Regions from separate parts of the Homo sapiens genome. Here region 2 is linked to region 1. The links come from fine-mapping of genetic effects on gene expression. A gene starts in region 1. The other region holds a variant in brackets. All regions are shown on one strand. Distances are between the middles of the regions. Region 1 holds the start of SLC12A2 (solute carrier family 12 member 2). Region 2 has its middle 60 kb from the start of FBN2.

What was found. PIP is the estimated chance that this variant, and not a neighbour inherited with it, causes the effect. A credible set is the group of variants that fine-mapping cannot tell apart.
Region 2: its variant is the best candidate, but not a certain one, in a credible set for the expression of SLC12A2 in pancreas (GTEx, PIP 0.53).

The regions. Positions count from the first base shown.
Region 1 is chr5:128,080,668-128,086,047 of GRCh38, reverse strand. SLC12A2 (solute carrier family 12 member 2) reads right to left here and starts at 2,282. Exons shown (of 27, transcript NM_001046.3): 1 at 1,338-2,282. The coding sequence starts at 2,093. SLC12A2-DT (SLC12A2 divergent transcript) reads left to right here and starts at 2,873. Exons shown (of 4, transcript NR_152813.1): 1 at 2,873-3,078. RefSeq lists an enhancer at 1,129-1,298 and a silencer at 1,789-2,618.
Region 2 is chr5:128,595,753-128,601,132 of GRCh38, reverse strand. No RefSeq gene overlaps it. Among named protein-coding and RNA genes, the nearest start is that of FBN2, 60 kb to the right of the region's middle. The variant C/T (reference allele first, on the strand shown) is at 3,271.

The DNA of each region.
Region 1 (5,380 bases):
ATCTACTTTTGTCTACAATGATTTTTGAGTTTTGAAAAGAAAAAAGAATAGACTTGATAGAAACTACAGGAGTATGAATAAAAAATGTTTTAGACATTGTTTTGCTTCTGATTATGACAAAATACCACAATGGAATAACAAGAATAGTATTATCTAAAGCTAAATGATCTCAGGCTTTTAAACAATCAATAAGCTGTAAGAGCTCTGTAATTACCTCTGTGTGAATGTTACATTATCAAACACTGGGACAAGTACAATCTTGTATGAAATCACTGTATGAGATCAAATAATCATATCCAAAAGAAATCACATACTGGATTTAAACTTGTCCAAACTGTGATCATTTCAACCTATGTGGTACCATCCTCTTGCGTTCACAAATTCCATCAATGTAGTCATTACACACTTGTAAAGGAAGACTTCAAGTAATCCCGGCTCATAAAAAAGTTAAACATTAACGAAATCTCAAAAGCATCAATGTTATCTCAAAACAGTGACATTGAACGCTGAAGAAATAAGTCTTATGTGACCATAAAAAATAGTTACAAAAATCAATGAGTTTATGGGGATGGTTTTCTGTTTACAAAGTGTAACTGCTTATGGCAAAGACCCCACAGGTCTTTCTGGTCATCCTCTACAGAAAAACCAATTCTCCTGTTTCCCTTTTTTCTTTAAAGACTCGCCTCTGTCCCTTTTTTTTTAAATATACACCTCTCCCAAAACGTTTTCATCGCAAAAAAAAAGAGTTATGCCATTATTAGGAACAGCGTGTCCCAAGACAAGATCTCTATGATCCTTTGTATATTCAAGATTGCAAGAATTGAGCTTTAATAACTCATAGACCATAAACACACCCTGTTAAGGTTTTCCTTCAAACAGCAACATTCCCACTCTTGCGATCCCTAATAGGCGTACATAAGCCACACAACACAATCTTTCAAAACGACACAGATGGTAGGTGCTCTCCAACCTCTCTCGAGAGATCCTCACTGCACATTCTCCTCTAAAGGGCCCACAAACACTACTGTCATTCAGAGGGATGGTGACTGTTGAGCGTGGGTGGGAAAGAAAGTGCACACGAGATACCTAACTGGATGGGGAAGGTTGTTAGAGGCAGCCCTCCGGTATCACGTAACTAGCCAAACCCGCTACAAACTTTTGAGAGATTAAGTTAACATTCCTCGGCAATTCCACCCTTGACAGCTGAATCCAGAGATGCCAGCAAGTCGTGCACGTCTACTACTCCCGCCACCTCAACTCGGGAAGAGTCTGCAGCCACATCCCGCGGTCGGCATGCACCAGGGGCTGGGGAAGAAGGGAGGGCTGGGCGAGCTCACCTTTTCCAGCTCGTCGTGGAGCTCCGCCAGGCTAGGCCGGAGCAGCTTCTCGCCCAGCTGCGCGGCTGTGTGCCGGTAGTGATCGATCCTGGGCACAGCGTCCATGGTGTTGTGGCCGAAGGTGCGCAGGTAGTAGGTGTTGGTGTGGGTATCATAATAGTAGTGCTGGTGGTGCCCACTGCCGCCGCCGCCGCCGGAGTGCAGGCTGCTGCCCTCGCTCAGCACCGTGTCCCCGCCGTTCTGGAAGCTCACGTTGGGCCCGTCGACTCCGACCCCGGCAGCATCTGACAGGCTGTCTTCAGCCGACGAGGAGGCAGCTGGGTCCACGAAGTTCACGCGGAAGCGGCCCTTGGCTTCCTCGCTGCCTTTAGCCGGCTCGCTCTCGCCGCTGGCTTCCCCGTCCGCGGGGGTCTGCTTGGCCCCCGCCCCAGCACCAGCCGCCGCCGCTGCCGCCGCCGCCGCCGCCGCCGCAGCAGCGGCCCGCCCGGCGTTCTCGGAAACCAGGTCCACCTGGAAACGGCTCTGGCTCGGGGTGGGCCCCAAGGGTCTGCCCAGCCCGTCCCCGGCCGCCGCGGGGCCCTCATCGCGGACCCCGCCGCCGTCCCGGCTCGCGGGCGCAGCATCCTCCGGCACCGAGGGCACAGCCGTGCCGGGCAGTTCCACCCTGGCTGCGGCCAGCGCAGCGGCTGACGGCGTCTCCCCGACCCCGGCCAGTCCCGGGGCGCCGGAGGAGGGCGCCGTGGGCCGCGGCTCCATAGCTGCCCGACCCCCGGCGGAACTGCAGAGCCCGGCGGACGTCTCCGGCAGCACGCCCTCCACACCCCTGGCCGGCGGTGGCCACAGCCGCAAGACCAGGTGAGAGAGTCTTTCTCCCCGCCGCCTGCGGGCCGCCGCTAGCCTGGACGGCCACAGAGGCCACCGGCAGCCGAGCGAGCGCGCGAGTGTGGCGGGCGCGGGGCGGGCCCCGCTGTTTAAAGCCTCGGCGGGGCTGCGGCGGCGGCGGCTCCGGCAGCAGCACGCGGGAGGCGGGGCCGGAGGCTCCTCCGCCCCTCAGCCCGCCCACCCGCGGTCCCGCAGCGGCGCGCGGCTGACGCTCCCTCAGCGATCCGGCCCTCCGCGGCTCCTGCGCGACCCCACGCAAAAGCGCCCCGTGCGAAGAGCGCGGCCAGCCAGTCCGCAAAGGGCCTCGGGCAGTGCGGGCAGCACGAACGGCGCGATCGGGGAGCAGGCGCGGCTACGCTCCGCCTCAGTGATGTCGCCGGGAGGATCTCCGCGCGGCTACCTCCTCTTCCGCCGCCTTCCTCCCACGCCTTCACCTCCCTCCCCCGCCGCGCTCTGCGGCGAAAAGGAGCGGGCTCCCAGGCCACCTCCCCTCTCTCCACCCAGGGGCCGCGCGTCAGTGGACCTGCAGCCCAGGCAACGGGGCTGCGGACGGCGCGCGTGCCCTGCCTCGCCTCACGCCGGTAGCTGATGCTCCCGCGGCAGCTGCCACCCCAGCGCCCCAGCCACGGCTTCAGAGGCTCTCGCACGCTGGCTTTTTTTTTTTCCCCCCGCTTTGGTGAACTCGCAGTACTTGGGCTGAGCCCGAAATCTCGCGAGATGCTGCAGGCGTCAGTGCGGCTTCCCACTAGGCGCGTGGTACCCGAGGCCGGGCCGGAGCCGCAGGCCAGCCGCGATTCCTTCGGGCGATGCTGGGGGCTTTCCGGTCGGGGCCGCAGCCGCTTCCGGAGCCGCGGGCGAGGTGCGTTCCCCAGCCTGGTTTGCTCTGGGCTCTGACCCGCCGCCGCGAATCTCCGCTCGTAACTCCGGGCCTGAACCTGGAGGAGGGAGGATTTCCTCTGTGCAGCTTTCGAGCGGTAGACTCACCCTGCCAGGCAGACCTAGATTGGCATAACCAGAGATCAGTTCCAGTTGTGATGCAGTGGGTGTCTACACACTTCTGATGACACCTTTATTTTAAAAGCTGATGTTCCAAGGTGAGAAGGGAGCTTCTTTGAGACGTCATGTTGTTTCAAGACGAGTTTTAATTTAAGGCATTTCCAAAAGTGATATGCAGCTCATCTCTCAGAATACAATGCCGGCAATAACTACCCGTGGAGTCCTTACCAGGAGGTTTCTGCGTGATTTGGGTTGTGCAGAATTCCTCTGCTTATATAGAAACAGAAAGGTACTCCTCTGCAGGTCTAGTTTCTCTTCGGTAAAATGTAAGGGAATATAACTGTGTTCCCACTTTCTTAGCAGCAGAAATTTTTAAACCTATAGATTATGCCCAAAGTCCTAAGTAAAATCAATGAATGGCGTCCTCCAATTACTTGGTTTTTATTTATGTACTTTTTTTTTTTTTTTTTGAGACGGAGTCTCGCTCTGTCGCCCAAGCTGTAGTGCAGGGGTGCGATCTTGGCTCACTGCAAACTCCGCCTCCTGGGTTCACGCCATTCTCCTCCTGCCTCAGCCTCCTGAGTAGTTGGGACTACAGGCGCCCGCCATCACGCCCTGCTAATTTTTTGTATTTTTAGTAGAGTCGGGGTTTCACCGTGTTAGCCAGGATGGTCTCGATCTCCTGACCTCGTGATCCGCCCACCTCCGCCTCTCCAAGTGCTGGGATTACAGGCATGAGCCACCGCGCCCGGCCCTTGTATTTTTAAACTTTGACTTTATGGAGACGAACACCATCGTTTGCTGAACACTTGAAACATGATGAAAGAGCCACAGAGTTGGCAGAACTGTTTGAAAATGCTGTAAGTAAAAGCTGCAACCAGGCAATTTTCAAAAAATTGTCATAAACATGATCTTACTTGAACTTGACAACTTTTCAGGCTATTTTATTATCTCTATTTTTAAAGACGGTGAGAGGGGAAAACAGCTGTTGCATCAGGATTTTTAAAGCTCCTTTTGAGCTTTAGTAATAACCAGAGGAGGCCAGAAAAATGAGGTGGTCCTTTAAGCAGTGCAGTTTTCTACTAGGGAATTGCTGCATTAGTAGTTGATCCGTGCAGTACCTTTCAGCTCCACAACGAATTCTGCCACTATTGGAATTCAACATTCATTTAGTTGAATAAATACTGAACAGGTACTATGAGCTACTCTGTATTTACGGGATATAGCAGTGAGCAAAACGGACAATCCCATCTCTCATGGAGTTCTTTCTAGTGAGAAAGAGAAACAATAGACAAGATAAATAGGTAAAATACATAGCATCCAAGCAGTGAGTACTAAGGAAAGGGAAATGGGATATTTGTGTGAAATGAGGATCATAAAATTTTCCATAGGATGGCCTCACTGAGAAGGTGATATTTGAGTAAGGAAGTGAGTGATATGAGTTCTTGGGAAAAAAAGTGTCTGAAGCAGAGGGAAACCAAAGACCCAAAGGCAGGAGCATGCTTAGCATGCTCACGGAATTGCATGTAAGCCAGTTTGGCTGGAACTTGCTTAAGAGATGTGAAGAATCAAAGGCAATTACATCAGAGAGCTTAGGATATGGGATGTAGTAGATCAGAATGTTTAGGACCTTTTTTGGCTGTTAGACATACTTGACTTTTTTAGTAGAATAGTGTGTTAGTCAGCTCAGGCTGCCATAACAAAATACATAGATTGGGTGGCTCAAACAGTAGAAATATATTTTCTCACAGTTCTGCCTGCTGGAAGTCTGAGATCAGAATGCCAGCATGATCATGTTCGGGTTTTCTTTTTGGCTTGCAGACAGTACCTTCTCAATGTCTCCTCAGATGATAAAGAGAGCGTTGTCTCTTTTCTTATAAGGGCACCAGTTCTGTGGAATCAGGGCTTTACCCTGATCACCTCATTTAACCTTAATTATCTCCTTAAAAGGACTGTCTCCAATACAGTCACATAGGAGTGAGGAGAGGATTCGGGCTTCAACATATTAATTTAGCAGGGTACACAACAGTCCTTGGCAGATGGCAGGTTATTGGAAGGTTTCAGTGGAGGAATGACATCTGCCATTTTTAAAGGATTCATCTAGCTGTCTTGTAGGTAGGCAAGGGATAAATGGTTGGGTCAAAGAAGCAAGGAGATGTGTTAAG
Region 2 (5,380 bases), 520 kb before region 1:
AAAGTTAATGGCATCAGACTAGAAGCTAAAGCATGATGTAAAAATAAAGTAAAGGCATTTTCAGACATTAAGGGTCTTGCCTATTATAGGTAATCTTTTCTCAGTAGGATGTGCTCCACAAAAACAAAAAATCTAAACTAAGAAATAGAAGGATATGGCATCCAGGAAAAAGAGATTCAATATAGCAGCAAGGCAAGGAAAATTCCCAGTTTCAATGTGACCAGAAACCTTAGGATGATAGTTATGTAGTAGGTTGAGATAATAAATATTGCAGGAGGACTTGGAGCTTAAAAAAAGATGACGAAAAAAAAAGAGACTGATAGATTATTATCTGCTGTGCTTGATTTATGACTTTATTTTAAAGAGTTTCATAGATCAGTAGAAGAATTTGGTGATTGTTAGCAATAAGTACCTGTATTTATAAGATAAGCAAACATGTAAAAAGAATTCATTATAAACTCCAAAAAAAACAAAAAGCTTCATAAGATGTAGAAGGTCACTATATTACAAACTCTGCTGTTGACAATATTAACATACTCAAAAGAATGTGGACACTCAATATTAATTTAACCAAAAATTACATGATAACTATACTGAAAGTGATGAGAGATGGAAATTGTAGGCACTGGTGGCGATTGCTGTTAAAAAAAAAAAAAAACTAACTACTTATCTTCAGTAACTGGAAATCAATGGATAATGTCTAAAATTTAAAAACCAAGAAAGCAGAAAAAGCAAGTTTTCAGAAATACAGCATAAGAAAGAGTTAAGAATTGAAAGTCATCATCTCTGAGAGCAAAAATTAAGGGTAGATATGTATGAAGGGGGCTGCAGTTTGTTGTCATATGCCTTGTTGTCTTACTTTGCTTCTAAAAGTGTATACATGCATTCACTCTGATTAAAATTATAATTTAATTTAATTTTTTCTATCTGGTGCAACTATAGGTATACTCAGGATTTATTTCTCCATACCGCATTCATTGAAATGTCAGACATTCCTTGGTGTGTCAAAAAGGAAGGAATGCGGAGACTAGAAAATGGAAGACCACAATGGATTTACCATATGCAAACTGTCTAACCCACTCTCTACATTCCCTAGGGGGAGTCCAGAATTCACTTCCTTCACTGAAGTTTGTGATACACATTAGTGAGAATAACACCAGCAACTTAGAAAGGTATCTTAGCATTAGGAATGCTAATGATAGGAACTCCCCAATGGGTCATGGGGATGATTCAATCAGATGTCCATCATATGGCATTTAATCAACAGAGGGAGAGGAGGCATAGTTATCATAGTGATCAGAATGTTCTAACCTAGATATTTTTGACAATGTTTAATCAACCATGCAGTCTAAGATGTTGAAATAAAATCTTGTATATTTGAAAAAACTTTGGATCTGGTAAATACCACCAAAATACATATAAAATTCTTGACCTCTTACCCAAGTCCTAGAACAAAGTCATTTTAAAAAGTTTTACTGATATGTAATAATTGTCTGTATGTATGGGGTACATGTGATATTTTGATATATGCATATAATGTATAATGATCAAATCAGGGTATCTAGAATATCAATCACCTCAAACATTTACTTTTTCTTTGTATTGATAACACTTGAAATCTTCTCTTCTAGCTATTATGAAATATTCCACACGTTATAGTTAACTATTGTCACCCTACTGTTCTATCAAACAATAGTACTTAGCCCTTCTGTGTTTGTACTCATTAACCAGCCTCTTTTCATTCTCTTCCACTCCTGACCTTTCCTAGCTTCTAGTAATTATCATTCTAGTCTCTATCTCAAAAGAGGACACACAAATGGTTTACGGGTATATTTCAAAAGGCTCAACATAACCAATCAGGGAAATGTAAATCAAAAACTACAATGAGATTGTTTCACCCCAGTTAAATGGCTATTTACAAAAGACAAAAAAAAAAACAAAAAAAAAAACAAAAAAAAACAAATGCTAGCTATGATACAGAGAAAAGGGAACTCATACACTGTTGGTGGAAATGTAAATTAATATAGCCATTATAGAGAACAGTGTGGAGGTTTCTCAAAAAATTAAAAATAGAATTACCATATGATCCAGCAATCCCACTGCTAAGTAGATACCCAAAAGAAAGGAAATCAGCATATCAAAGATATATCTGCACTCCCATGTTTATTGCAGCACTATTCACAATAGCCAAGGTATAAAATCAATCTAAGTGTTCATCAGTGGACAAATAGATGAAGAAAAGGTGGTATATATACACAGTGAAATAGTATTCAGCCATAAAAAGAAAGAGATCCTGTCATCTGCAGCAATGTGGATAGAACTGGAGGTCATTATGTTAAGTGAAATAAGCCAGGCACAGAAAAACAAATATTGCATGTCTCACTCGTATGTAGCAGATAAACATGTTGCACAAAGTCATTTTAAAGATCCAAGAGGCTCCTTCAATGAAGAAAAGCCTAATGACCACAAAGGACAATAAAATCACTGGTGTAGAGAAGAGATGCATTGCATAGAGACAAGAGCTTTTATTTTGCAGTCAGAATACTGGATTCAAAGTCTGGCTGTAACATTTACTAGCTGTGTGACTTTTGGCATTTACTAAGTTAATTGTGTTATAAAGAAAGAAAAATATCAAACATTTAGAGAAAAGATAAGACACAATCTGTGAGGCAACACTAATTCCTAAGAACGCAGGATTCGAGTGCTCTCCAGCATTATCCCCAGAATGAACTCTAGTGGGCATTTTGTCCACTTCAAGGGAAACCAAGTATTGGCACACTACACAACATTTCTCCCAGCCAAAGAATTCACTTTACTTTAGAAATAGCCAGTCTTATCATAGGACCCTCATCTAGAGTCAATCATCTTATAAAAGCGTAAAATGTGCTGGGCGCGGCGGCTCATGCCTGTAATCCCAGCACTTTGGGAGGCCGAGGCTGGCAGATCACGAGGTCAGGAGATCGAGACCATCCTGGCTAACACGGTGAAACCCCATCTCTACTAAAAATACAAAAAATTAGCTGGGCATGGTGGCACACACCAGTAGTCCCAGCTATTCGGAAGGCTGAGACAGGAGAATCACTTGAACCCAGGAGGCGGAGGTTGCAGTGAGCTGAGATCATGCCACTGCACTCCAGCCTAGGCGACAGAGTGAGACACGGTCTCAAAAAAAAAAAAAAAAAAAGAAAGAAAGAAAGAAAAAAGGGTAAAATGCACTACTGAAGATGGATTTAAGTCCTAATGTACAATAGATACTTTGAAAATTCAGGG[C/T]CTGGTTCTGTAGATGTAGTAATTGTTCTTTAACCAGCAAACAGTAAACAATTCTGTTTTTCCCAAAACCAAATTATATTAGTTGAGGAACAAAGGACTAGAAATATGGTGCTATTCACTTAATTATCTATGGTGCTATATTAAACATGGTGCTATTACCTAATTGCTAATTACATCTTGCAAAATTTTGCATTCCATCCCATCAGCTCCAGGCTCTGCTGGCATGGGGATCATAGAAAAGAGGAATGTTTTCAGCATTTGATGGAGCTTAGACTTCTATTGGACTATTTTACACTCTTCATGTTGAAGACAGGGGGAAAATGGTGTTTTAGCGTAGTTTGATTGATTCTAATTCTCAAGGAAAAACTGGATTGCTGTTATACAATGGGGGCAGGGAGGAGAATAAACAGAACACCTTCTCATATTACCATGCCCAGTGTTAAAAGTTAATCAAAGACTCTGGCAATCTATTCAGGCAGAACCACCAAAAGCTTAGATCCCTCCGGAAGAAGGTTTGAGTGATCCCACTGGGTAAAGAATCCCAGCCAGCTGAGGTGCTAGCAGAGGGCAAAGCAAACAGAAATGCTTGGTGGAGGAATAAAGTCATAAATACCAGTGACAGTCTCATGGTCACTTGCAGAAACAAAGACTAAAGCCTCTACCCAATTTTTCTTTCTTGTTGAATCATGGTTATATTTGCGCATTTTAATTAAATTCCCTTTTCTTGAGGAGGTAGGTGGTAGTAATCAACCATATAATGCGTGCTTTCAGTAGCCAAATTCTGAAGTGGGATTATGCGGAACCAAAGAAGTGGACATCCCCCAGAGATTCTGGATTTGGAGTCTGGCTCACTTCAGATTTTCTTACTTGGGGGAGGGAAAGAGTGTATTGTAAGTTATACGAAGGATCATTATATTATGTTAGATAAGGACTTTTTTAATGTAAATATGTGTAGAAGGACAAATATAGTCAGCCAAAAGGGTAAACTGTAGTGAATATTCCTTATTTGTTGGCTGCACAAACCTCTTCCTTTTGGGGAGAAATCTCCCACTGTGTGAGCCCTGGAGAGAGACACAGCCCACCTTTGCACACAAAGGCCAAAGGAAGACAAGTGTGTCCTCTCCATATCCCATGAACAGGTGCCTCGCCCCCGCCATCTGGTTCTTTTTCTCAGCTTTTGTACCTTCATCAAGTGATGCAAGGATAAAGGGACAGTTTATGCTACTGTGCTCAGCATCAGGGGTGGGTAGAGATAGTGGGCGGTTGTGGCTTTACCATCCTGGCACTGTCACCTGAGGAGGTAGGGCCAGCAGCAGTGTCTGAACCAGAGCATTTGAGGCAAGATTTTGCCTGTGTTCCCACTTCCTGACTTCCTCTTGTTTCTTACTTATATCCTTCTCTTTAAATTAAGCAAAATTGTTTTCCCTTGCTAATTAGGCAAAATTGTTTTCCTTTGCTTACAGCAAAGAGCCAAGTGAGACAAATCTATTTTCACTACTTTAGAAGAAAGTCAACCACTTTGGTGGGGCTAGCCCATCTGAAAGTAGGAAAAGAATACGTGGCTTTGTTAAAAAGCCTGTTTTGGCCTGCAGCCAGGAATGAAATATGTCAGACTCTGCCCAAGCTACCATAAGTGAACTAAAGGGAGGGGAAAAAAACATTGCAGGATTTACAACTGAGACCCGGAAAAGCCTGACCCCAAGCCTGCCAAGCACCATCTCTAGCGCACACTCTGTTTGATAATAGCGTCAACTACCTAAGCACAAGCTTTGTAAACAAAATAGGTTCATGGATCCCAAATAATCTTTTCTGCCATCGATGTCCTAAAACAAATAGATTCATTCAGTAGATGGTGCAGGGAGGTGGCCACCAATGGAATCCCCAAATTAAGCATGACTGATTAAACTGTTGATTAATTTTTGAAAATAGCACAGAAATGAGCATTACATTTAGCAAGACAATGGAGAAAAAAAATCATCAGTGTACACTGTTGTGAGTCAAGACTCAAACTCAAAACTTTACAAACTTACACATAAATATCTTTTCTTTAGAACTCACTAACTATCCATAAAAGTGGGTTTTGATACAGGGTGTACTAACTCCTCTTTAT